Homo sapiens: one gene and its partners. The protein of the gene in region 3 purifies or fractionates together with the protein of the main gene of each other region. This does not show direct contact. Each region holds a gene or a part of one and is shown on either strand. Other genes may lie near its edges. The genes, in order: NUP35, AAMDC and GMIP.

Region 1 (3,654 bases), on a different chromosome or scaffold from region 3:
GATTTAAAAAACTACAAACAAATATCAAACTCTAGTTAATGACATGCATGCTCAAGTGTCAGGGTAATATGTATTGATGTCTACAACTTATTATGAAATGTACCAACAAAAAGAATGAATTGATAGATGGATAAATGACAAAGCAAATGTAGCAAACTGTTAACCATAGAACCTAGGTGGTAGTAATATGGGTGTTTGCTATGCACTTCTTTCCATTTTACTGTATGTTTGATTATATTCATTATAAAATGTTAGGGTGGGGTTTTTAAAAGGCAAATGGTCTGCAAACCTTACCCAAATACAGTCACCCAAGAGTCATCGAGGTGATCTTCTGAAGTCAAAGAATCTCCTTGAGTATAAAAAGGATCCAACTGGGCAGGAGATAATGTCGTCTTTCGTGGCTGACCGATACTTGCTGGACTAAACATACTTTGCCCTATATTAGTATATTTAGCAAGTTAGTTGCCAGTGTAAACACCTCGATTGATTCTAAATCAAAAATCTTAGTTTTAAATGATAAAGTCTAATAAAGTTGGCAATTACATAAACAGTTCAAAACATACAACTGTGGTCAAATAGCAATTTCATGCTACCATACAATTAGAGGAAGTAATAATTGGGCATAGTTTATAATTCTGCAAATGTTTTATTATGTATGATAAATTATCTAAATGTTTTATTAAGCATGTCTGGTTAAGCTGACACCAGAAGGATATCCCAGGCAACCTCAAAGACTTCTGTTGGTTTCATCTTCCAAACCTACCACTTTCATCACAGCACCTCTGCCTTAAGAACATGTAAAAATGTATTACCCACAGAACAAAATCCGAATGCCTTGGCCTCAGCTATACAGTTGCAACCTTACTTTTCCAGTATGCACTAAACAATATCTACCTTACCCCTTAAAATGTGAATGCAATTTTCTTTTATTCAGGTCATTTCTTTCTAAAATGTCTTATCCTTTTATTTCTTATTCTTCAGTAACAGCCACCAATTGAGTACTTCTGTGTGTCCAACATGCCATGCTAAACACTTTATAAAGTTCATTTTATATCAGAAGCAATGTCCAATTAAGGCTATACATTTGAGAGAAGCAAAGACTATTTCCCTTTCATCTTCACAGTAGCAATAATGATTTACTCATTCAAAACATATTTTATCAGCACTTAAATATGCACCAAGCATCAACCTAGGTATTGAAGGTATAGCAGTAAACACATTAGACAAATAAAAACAAAAAATCCATCCCTATTGGAGCCTACATTCTAGCGAAAGAGAGACAAATAAGTAAATACTTAATGTGCTACAAAACTAAAAATCCTACAGAGAAAAAAAAATAAAGCAGAGAAGGGAGACAGGGCCAATTTGTGTGGGTGGGTTAAATGAAAAAGGATTTCACTGAGGTGCATTAAAGCAAAAACCTGAAGGACAAGGGAAGCAAAACAATATTTGAAGAAGTGAACATTTTGTGGAGAAAATAATAAAACAAAGGCCATGAGGAAAGACATGATTGGTCTTAGATGAACGCAAGAAGGCCACTGTTTGCACAGTGAGGGGGATGTGAGATGAGAACAAGGAGATGCGAGCAGAGAGGCAGCAATATGCCGGATCATGAAGAAAAACCTTATAAAGCCACTGTAAAAGCTAAAGCTCTAAGCGAGGTAGAAAACCAACAGAAAAATCTGAGCAAGCGTGACATAACAGGACTAAAACTTTGATAGTAAAAGGTAGCATTTTAAGGGCCAGGCCAGTGGCTCACACCTGTCATCCCAACACTTTGGGAGGCCAAGGCGAGCGGATCATGACGTCAGGAGTTTGTGACTGGCTTGGCCAACATGGTGAAACCCCATCTCTACTAAAAACACAAAAATTAGCCAGGTGTGGTGGTGCATGCCTGTAATCCCAGCTCCTCTCAAGGCTGAGGCAGGAGAATCGCTTGAACCCGGGAGGCGGAGGTTGCAGTGAGCTGAGATAGCACCACTGCATTACACCCTGGGTGACAGAGAGACTCTGTCTCAAAAAAATAAAAAAATTAAAAAAAAGGTAGCATTTTATTAAGTGATTATTACACTTTACGAGTGTAATTTTATTTAATTCTAACAATCCTACAAAAGGTCCAATTAGTCCATTTAACAAATTAGGAAACAGGATAATATTAAATAACATCCAGAAGGTTAGTTGGAATTCCAATCCAGGCAATCGGAATCCAAAGCATGAGCTCTGAGGCAGTAATCTAGTTAACATGTTTATTTCCTGTGGCAGTACTACAAGTGTGGTCTGGAGATTCTTGGCTCCCCCAGGACTCTCTCATGAGATCAGCCAACTCAAAATTATTTTCACAAAAACATGAAGTTTCATTTGCCTTTTTCTCAGTCTCTTATTAGTGTACAGTGGAGTTTTCCAGAGGCAACTTCATGTGATTCAACAGACTCAGGTTGAAAAGAGAAGCAGATTCATGAGAATTCACAGGTATTTTATTAAGCCAGACACTAAAAAGATTTTTAAAACAAAAACAATGTCACTCTTCCTGCAAATCTTTTTTTCTTTAGAAAATAGTTACTGTTCACTTCAAAAAAGATTATGTTTATATGAAATAGCTTTATTTTTAAATGAGTTAATACTTAAATTTTAAATTTTGTTTTAATTTTGAATGCAGTAAATATTGATAGCTATAATCTATATAAACAAAAGCTCTTTAATTTTTAAGAGTATAAACAAGGTAAAAACTACAAAACTAAGACATTTGAGAACCACTGTTCTACAGGTCAATGCGCATGAGTCATGCTCCATTTTTATTGATTTTCTAGAGGCTACTTAACATATTCTAACTATTGTATGTATCTCCTGACTTGCCATTTATCCTTAATTCCCAAATGAGTTGAAAACCATCCTAACTCATTCCAAAGTGTTTATAGTCACATGGATTTCTCCAAGTATGTTCTTAAGAAACAAAAAAGATTATCTATAGAAGGTGGGGGGAAAAGCTACTGTGATAAAAAGCTTGGCTTTGCACTGTGGCTCGTGACTGTAATCCCAGCGCTTTGGGAGGCCAAGTTAGGAGTTCAGGACCAGCCTGGGCAACATGGCAAAACCTTATCTCTACTAAAAATACAAAAAATTAGCTGGGCGTAGTGGTGTGTGCCTGTGGTCCCAGCTATTTGAGAGGCTGAGATGGAAGGATCACTGGAGCCTGGGAGGTGGAGGTTACAGTGAGCCAAGATCATGCCACTGCACTCCAACCTAAATGACAGAGTTTAAGACTCCATCTCGAAATATATCTATAGATATATTTGATAAAAATAACCTGTTAAAGAAGTGGGCAAAGAACATGAATAGACATTTTTCAAAAGACATACAAATGGCTAAGAGGTATATGAAAAAATGCTCAACATCACAAATCATCAGAGAAATGCAATTCAAAACTACATCATCACCTTACCCTAGTCAGAATGGCTATTGTTAAACAAAAAAACAAACAGATGCTGGCGAGGATGCAGAGAAAAGAGAACTCATACACTGTTGGTGAGAACGTAAATTAGTACAACCTCTATAGAAAGCCATATGGAGATTTCTCAAAGAACTAAAAATAGAACTACCATTCAATCCAACAATTTCTCTTACTGGGTATCTAACCAAACGAAAAGAAATAATATA
Region 2 (3,654 bases), on a different chromosome or scaffold from region 3:
ATTTCCCAGGGATGACACAGCCACAGGGGGCTTTATAAGCTCTCTACATATCCCAAGTGGACCAGAGGCTGCAAGGATATGCATCAAAGATTTGGAAGATAGACCCAAGACACCCAAACATTCTGGGCTAATGGATCCTCAGCACATACACAGTGGATAAGCAAGAAGGTTCAAGAGGGCCTTGCAGAATGTAAAAGCCAGTGAAGACATACAACAGCTGGACTTTGAACGCACTCCCCTGTACACACAGTGTTCCATCAGTAGAGAGAGAAAGTCTTACTGCCTCAAGGTGTTTGAGCCAAATGTTTAATTAATGTTTGGCTGAACACTAAGCTATATACACACCAAGGAGAATCTTGGGAAACTGGGTTTAAGAATAAAATCAAGGAAAAAACTCTAACAGAACAGAGACTAAAGTAGACACATATTGCATGGGAGAATTCATAGATTTAGTTTAGTGCTATGGTTTGAATGTCTGCACCCTTCCAAACTCATGTTTAAATTTAACTGCCATTATAACAACATTAAGAGGTGGGACCTTTAAGAGCTGATTAGGCCATGAGGGTTCCACCCTCATGAATAGATTATGCTGTTATTGCAGGAGTAGTAGGTTCATTATAAAAGGACAAGTATGGCCCTCTCTTGGTGCTTCCACCATGTGATGACTTCCACTATAGGATGATGCAGCAAGAAGGCTCTCACCAGATGCGAGCCAACTGGTCTTGGACTTCCCAGCCTCCAGAACTGTGAGAAAAAAAATTATTTTCATTATAAATTTTAAATTACCCAGTTTCAGGTATTCAGTTATAGGAGCACAACATGGATTAAGCACAAAATGGATTAAGACATTTAGTATAGGCAAATGGCTAAACCCCCACACACAAATAAACAGAAGAACAACTTTCAGGGGGAAAAGTTGTTTCGCCAGGCTGGATGCCATCCACACTGTCCTACAATATGTTATCTAAAATGTCACTCTTCAACAAAAAATTACAAGGCATGCAAATAAACAAAAACTATGACCCACACTCAGTAAACTGAAACTGTTACCTGGGGCTGAGTGTGGTGGCTCATGCCTGTAATCCCAGCACATTGGGAGGCCAAGGTGGGAATTTCACTTGAGGCCAGAATTTCAAGACCAGCCTGGGTAACATAGGGATACCCAGTTTCTTTTATGTTTTTATTAGAATTTTATTTTTCTAATAGAAATACATTAAACACTTTTTTTTCTTTTGAGATGGAGTCTGGCTCTGTTGCCCAGGCTGGAGTGCAGTGGTGCGATCTTGGCTCACTGCAACCTCCACCTCCGGGGTTCAAGTGATTATCCTGCCTCAGCCTCCCAAGTAGCTGGGATTACAGGCATGTGCTACCATGCCCGGCTAATTTTTGTATTTTTGGTGGAGACAGGGTTTCACTATGTTGGCCAGGCTGGTCTTGGTCTCCTGACCTCAGGTGATCCACCTGCCTTGGCCTCCCAAAGTGCTGGGATTACAGGCGTGAGCCACTTAAAGATACTTTTAATTCAAAAGGTACTAAACAGTAGAAAGTGAAAGTTTCCTTGCTCCCATGAACCCCAGATACCTAGTTTTCATGTTTCTTTTCAAGGGTATATTGTGCATTAATCATTCAAATCCCTGGGTGTTGTGTGTGTGTGTGTGTGTGTGTTTACTGTCCCCCTCTCCATACTCTAATATTACAGAAATGATAACATGCTATCAACCCTGGTCTTTATTTTGCTTTTTTGCTTTCCAATATCTTGGAAATTGTTATATGCATGTAACATCTTTTTTACGTTCCAGGATACATGTGTAAGACATGCACGTTCATTACATAGGTACACATGTGCCATGGTGGTTTGCTGCACCTATCAACCCATCACCTAGGTATTAAGCCCCACATGGATTAGCTATTTATCCTGATGCTCTCCCTCCCCCTGACCCCCACCAGCAAGCCCCAGTGTGTGTTGTTCCCCTCCCTGTGTCCATGTGTTCTCATTGTTCAGCACCCACTTATAAGTGAGAACATGTGCTGTTCAGTTTTCTGTTCCTGTGTTAGTCTGCTGAGGATAATGGCTTCCAGCTCCATCTGTGTCCCTGCAAAGGACATGATCTTGTTCCCCTTTATGGTTGCATAGTATACCATGGTGTAGAGGTACCATATTTTCTTTATCCAGTCTATCACTGATGGGCATATGGGTTGATTCCATGTCTTCGCTATTGTAAACAGTGCTGCAATGAATATATGTGTGCATTTCTCTTTATAACAGAATGATTTATATTCCTCTGGGTATATACCCAGTAATGGGATTGGTGGGTCAAATGGCATTTCTAGTTCTAGGTCTTTGAGGAATTGCCCCACTGTCTTCCACAAAGGTTGAACTAATTTACATTTCCACCAATAGTGTAAAAGCATTCCTATTGGGAGACCTGGTTTCTACAAAAACAAACAAACAAAAAAAAGCCAAGTGTGTTGGCTTTGCACCTATAGTGCTAGCTACTCAGGAGGCTGAGGCAGGAGGATCACTTGAGCCCATGAGTTTGAGGCTGCAGTGAGCAATGATCTTGCCACTATACTCCAGCCTGGGTGACTGAGCAAGACTCTGTCTCCAAAAATTAATTAATTAATTAAAAAAGAAACTGTATCTGAGTAATTGAGTATTCTCAGAAGTCTGACATTTAGCAAAGACTTCAAAGAAAGTAGTATAAGGGAAATAAAGCACAAAGAAATAAACAAAAATATGGTAACAATGACTCAGCAAATACAGAATCTCAATAAGGAAACACTTCAAAAAGGAATAAAATGGAAATTCTAGCACTGGTAAGCACAGTAAGTAAAAGGTACTTGTATTGCTGGGCGCGGTGGCTCACGCCTGTAATCCCAGCACTTTGGGAGGCCCAGGTGGGCGGATCACGAGGTCAGGAGATTGAGACCATCCTGGCTAACACGGTGAAACTCCGTCTCTACTAAAAATACAAAAAAATAGCTGGGCGCAGTGGTGGGCGCCTGTAGTCTCAGCTACTCGAGAGGCTGAGGCAGGAGAATGGCGTGAACCCGGGAGGCGGAGCTTACAGTGAGCCCAGATAATGCCACTGCAGTCTGGCCTGGGCAAAAGAGCGAGACTCTGTCTCAAAAAAAAAAAAAAAAAAAGGTACTTGTATCAGTCAGGGTTATCCAGAGAAACAGAAGCAGATGACTATAAATATTGACAGACTTGTTTCAAAAAAGTGGCTCACAAAATTTTGGAGGCTGGCAAGTCCAAAATGTATAGATAATACTGGTAAGCTGCTCACCCTTGGGCAAGAGTTGTTATGGTACTGAGGCAGTATTTCTTCTTCAAGGAAACATCAGTTTTGCTTGGACTTTAAACTGATTGGAAGAGGCCAACTCAGTGTATCAAGGATATAATCTCATATATACACTAGTCTACTGACTGTAGATGTTAACCATATCTACAAGGTATGTTCACAGCAACACTTAGATTAGTATTTGATTAAATAACCGTACTATAACCTTACCACGTTGACACATAAAACTAACAGTCACAGTCTACATCTTGTCAATTTGGCACCTATATGTGTCTCCTTAACCATATTTAATCTCCAACTAAAGACGATTAGAAAGTCTTACTTCTGATTAACATTAATAACTAATAAC
Region 3 (3,654 bases):
AAATACATGTTCAATAAATATTCTGTTGGAGGAATGAATGATCACCCATGTTAGTACCTCTGCAGGGCTGTCCCCTTTTGTTACATCATCACTGCCCACTGCTCATTCCTCACTATTCCTTCCAGAATGAACATAAGTTAAATGAGGAAGGGAGGAAGAGAATGAAGGAAATTTTAAAAAGGAAGGAAGGTGAAAGAGAAGGTAAGAGAATTGAACAGAGATAAGGCCCTCTCCATAGCTGTGGGCCCAGTGGGTTCTTACCTCGGTAGGTGTGGCCGTGGGATGCTGCTCCAGGGTACTGTGGTGCTGGGGGTCTGGGCCGGGGTCTGAGGCTAGGACTGGGGGCTGGGAGTCTGGGTCAAGGTGCGGGGGTGGCGGTTGGGAGCTGGTTGTGAGGGGCCCAGGGGCTGGGCTGGAGTCTTGGGGCGGGGGCTCAGTGGCCTGGGGGAGCTCATCCATCCCAAAGATCTGCTCGTAGTGCACGATGAGGAACTCCACAAGCTGGGCCTGATGCCCAGAGTCCAGCAGGCAGGTGACAGGGATGGCGCTGGCTGCCCGCGGGCCGTCCGGCGGCCGCAGCAGTGTCGGCCCAAACACAATGCCCAGGTTGTTGGCAGACATCTTGTTTTCCATAAATCGTGCAGCCACCCTGGGGATGGTGTGAAGAGAAAGGTCAGGGTACAGGATGCAAGCTCATTGGTCTGAGGGTAAGGGTGGGACACGCAGGCCAGCCTAGAGGTGACTTGCCCATGTCACAGGTGTAAGTCGTCTGAGACCAGCAGCCACATATCCAGAACTGGAGGTCAGGGGTCAGTACCCAAAGTTATGAATCATGGATTAAGGTTCAGAGTTCAGAAAACACAGGTCAAAGGTCAGAGGTCAGTGTCAGGGGTCAGCCAGGGAAGTTAGTAGTCGCATGTCCAGGGAAAAGGGTCGCGTTTCAAGGCTCAGGGACCCATGCACACCTGAACAGATGGGCCACCAGGTGCCGCAGGGTGTTGTAGTTAGAGTCAGGCAGCTGTACCAAGAGGGTCTTCAGCGAGCGGATAACCTCAGGGCTGGGGCTGGGGGTCCCAGGGTCGTCCCCAGGGTCTGCATGCAAGGTCTTAGCCAGAGAGATGAAGGCGTCGTAGAGGTGGAAGGGGATCACGGGCTCGGTGAGCTGGGGGTGGAACGGAGGGCGCAACACGAGTGTGGGTGGGCTGTGGAGGGCTCCTGCCCGCGTCCCCCTCAGTGTCCTGAGCACCAACCTCCTGAAGAAATCGCTTGAGGACACTCGAGACGTCATGAGGCGAGTTCCCCGACAGCTCCACCAACGCTCGGCCATTCTCGAAAGCCTGGCACAGCCGCTCCACACGGACCCGGGACCCGCTGACCCGGTAAATGCCCTGCAGGGTGAGGGTGAAAAACAGACACCTGGTTCGTGATAGGCCATCGATTCGGTCAGGTCACTTCTGGGGATGATGAAGGGTCAGGGCAGCACCTGCACATCCAGGGCACGGTGTTCTATCTCAGCCGTGCACTTCGTGACCACAAAGGGTACCTCCTCCGGGAAGTCCCTGGGTAGCTGCAGGAAGTCAACCCCAAAAAGGGGTGTCCGGGCTGGGAGCCGCCTGTGTCCACAGAGGATCAGGAGAGTCTCCAGGCAGCGCTTGTGGCAGGTCAGAAAGCACTGTGGGGAAGGTCACAGGGACAGGGAGGTCATTAGGGACCAGTAGGGGAAGAGAAGGTTACAAGGATCCTCAAGGAATGGGGGCTCATGGGAGACATCAGGTTAGGGTGGGTCCCAGGGGCAGAAAGGCTGTAGGAATCTCAGGTCAGGGAGATGATCAAGGGTCAGCAAAGGTCATTTGGTCATTAACCCAGGCCACACCTCCTCACACTCCGTCCCGCTGACCATGAAGGCTTCGCACTCGCGGCACTTGGCTGGGCCCCGCAGTCGCCGCAGCTGGTGGGTCTGAGCCGCGCTGGACAGTGTCCACTTCCCGAAGGGGCTGCCCAGCCCATTCTCCAGCCCGTCTCCCAGGTCTGCAGGGAGACAGGGTCAGGAGTGCCTGGTGCCCTGCCCTGTCCCATCCTGACCTACCCTGCTTCAGCCTCACCAGGGTCTCGCTCCTCAAAGTCATCTGAGGACTCAGTGCCTGTGGACGAAGCCTTCACCAGCTGCCTCGTGCCAGCGCCTGGGGTCAGAGGAATCATGGGAGATTCCTGGGCTATGGGAGGCACTCCTGGTTTTTAGGGCTTCCAGAACCACCCACTAATTCCCAAGGGGTCAGAGGTCAGGAGGGGGATTGGACAGGTCAGTGGTTAAGGGTTGGAGAATTGGGTCAGCAACCTGAGGGGGGTGGTTCATAAGCTGGATCAAGAGGTTGAGGAAATAGGCCGGGCGCAGTGGCTCACACCTGTAATCCCAGCACTTTGGGAAGCTGAGGCAGGAGGATCACATGAGGCAAGGAGTTTGACACCAGCCTGGCCAACATGGCAAAACCTTGTCTCTACTAAAAATACAAACATTAACCAGGCATGGTGGCAGGCACCTGTAGTCCCAGCTACTCGGGAGGCTGAGGCACGAGAATCGCTTGAACCTGGGAGGCGGAGGTTGCAGTGAGCCAAGATCGTACCACTGCGCTCCAGCCTGGGCAACAGAGCAAGACTCTGTCTCAAAAAAAAAAAAAAGAAAGAAAGAAAAGAAAAGAAAAGGCCGGGCGTGGTGGCACACACCTGTAATCCCTGCACTTTGGGAGACCGAGGCAGGTGGATCACCTGAGGTCAGGAGTTCGAGATCAGCCTGGCCAACATGGTGAAACCCCGTCTCTACTAAAAAATACAAAAATCAGCCGGCGTGGTAGTGCACACCTGTAATCCCAGCTACTCCAGAGGCTGAGACAGGAGAATCGCTTGAATCTGGGAGGTGGAGGTTGCAGTGAGCCGAGATCACGCCACTGCACTCCAGGCTGGGCGACAGAATGAGACTGTCTCAAATAAACAAACAAATAAATAAATAAATAATTTTTAAAAAGGTAAAAAAAGAGGTTGAGGAAATAGGTCAGGGGTGTGGGGTAGGTCAGAGGTCAAAGATAGTTAAAGATTGAGGGTCAGAGCTTGGCCAGGGGCTGGAGGATGGTCACAGGTGGAGTGTGGGTCAGGACCAGGTCCTATCCCTACCTGGGCTGGAAGTGGGTGAGTCCAGGGACCGAGACTCGCTGCCGCCACCCACGCTGTCCACATCGCTGCCCGGAGTGGGGCCTGGAGTCCCTAGGTGGCACAGGTCAATAAGGATGGTCCCCTGCTCACAAACCCCACTCCTGCAGCCCACCTATGTGTTGGTGGAACGAACTCCTGGCACCACTCCCACCTGGCCCTCATTGCACTCACCTTGCCAGCGCCAGCCTGTGCCCGGATCCTCCCAAGGGCCTGGCTCAGCTGAATTCTCATCCAGCCTTGGAGGAAGAGGCCCAGAGAGCTTCTTTCTGATGTCCAGAGGGGAGCTGAGAAGACAGAAGTTTGAAGGTTTGAATCCCAGGAAACTGGCCTGGGGTGATGGCACCCAGGCATCATGTCTAGGTACCAACTCCAAGCACTTGGGTCTGCAAACCCTGACACCCAGGGCATTGTGGCCCCTGAAATACAGTAGCCCCACATTCCTGCCCCTGC

What was found.
Region 1: the proteins of GMIP (region 3) and NUP35 purify together in Homo sapiens (affinity purification with mass spectrometry; one large-scale study listed by BioGRID and IntAct). This does not show direct contact.
Region 2: the proteins of GMIP (region 3) and AAMDC purify together in Homo sapiens (affinity purification with mass spectrometry, with the first as the bait; one large-scale study listed by BioGRID). This does not show direct contact.

The regions. Positions count from the first base shown.
Region 1 is NC_000002.12:183,148,290-183,151,943, reverse strand, and holds part of NUP35 (nucleoporin NUP35), read right to left. Parts: intron 437-3,654; coding exon 295-436; intron 1-294. UniProt on the Homo sapiens protein: Functions as a component of the nuclear pore complex (NPC).
Region 2 is NC_000011.10:77,838,109-77,841,762, reverse strand, and holds part of AAMDC (mth938 domain-containing protein), read right to left. Parts: intron 745-3,654; exon of another isoform or gene 578-744; coding exon of another isoform or gene 539-577; intron 1-538. UniProt on the Homo sapiens protein: May play a role in preadipocyte differentiation and adipogenesis.
Region 3 is NC_000019.10:19,633,542-19,637,195, forward strand, and holds part of GMIP (GEM-interacting protein), read right to left. Parts: intron 3,489-3,654; coding exon 3,376-3,488; intron 3,256-3,375; coding exon 3,166-3,255; intron 2,181-3,165; coding exon 2,103-2,180; intron 2,029-2,102; coding exon 1,874-2,028; intron 1,673-1,873; coding exon 1,484-1,672; intron 1,389-1,483; coding exon 1,251-1,388; intron 1,163-1,250; coding exon 966-1,162; intron 650-965; coding exon 262-649; intron 1-261. UniProt on the Homo sapiens protein: Stimulates, in vitro and in vivo, the GTPase activity of RhoA.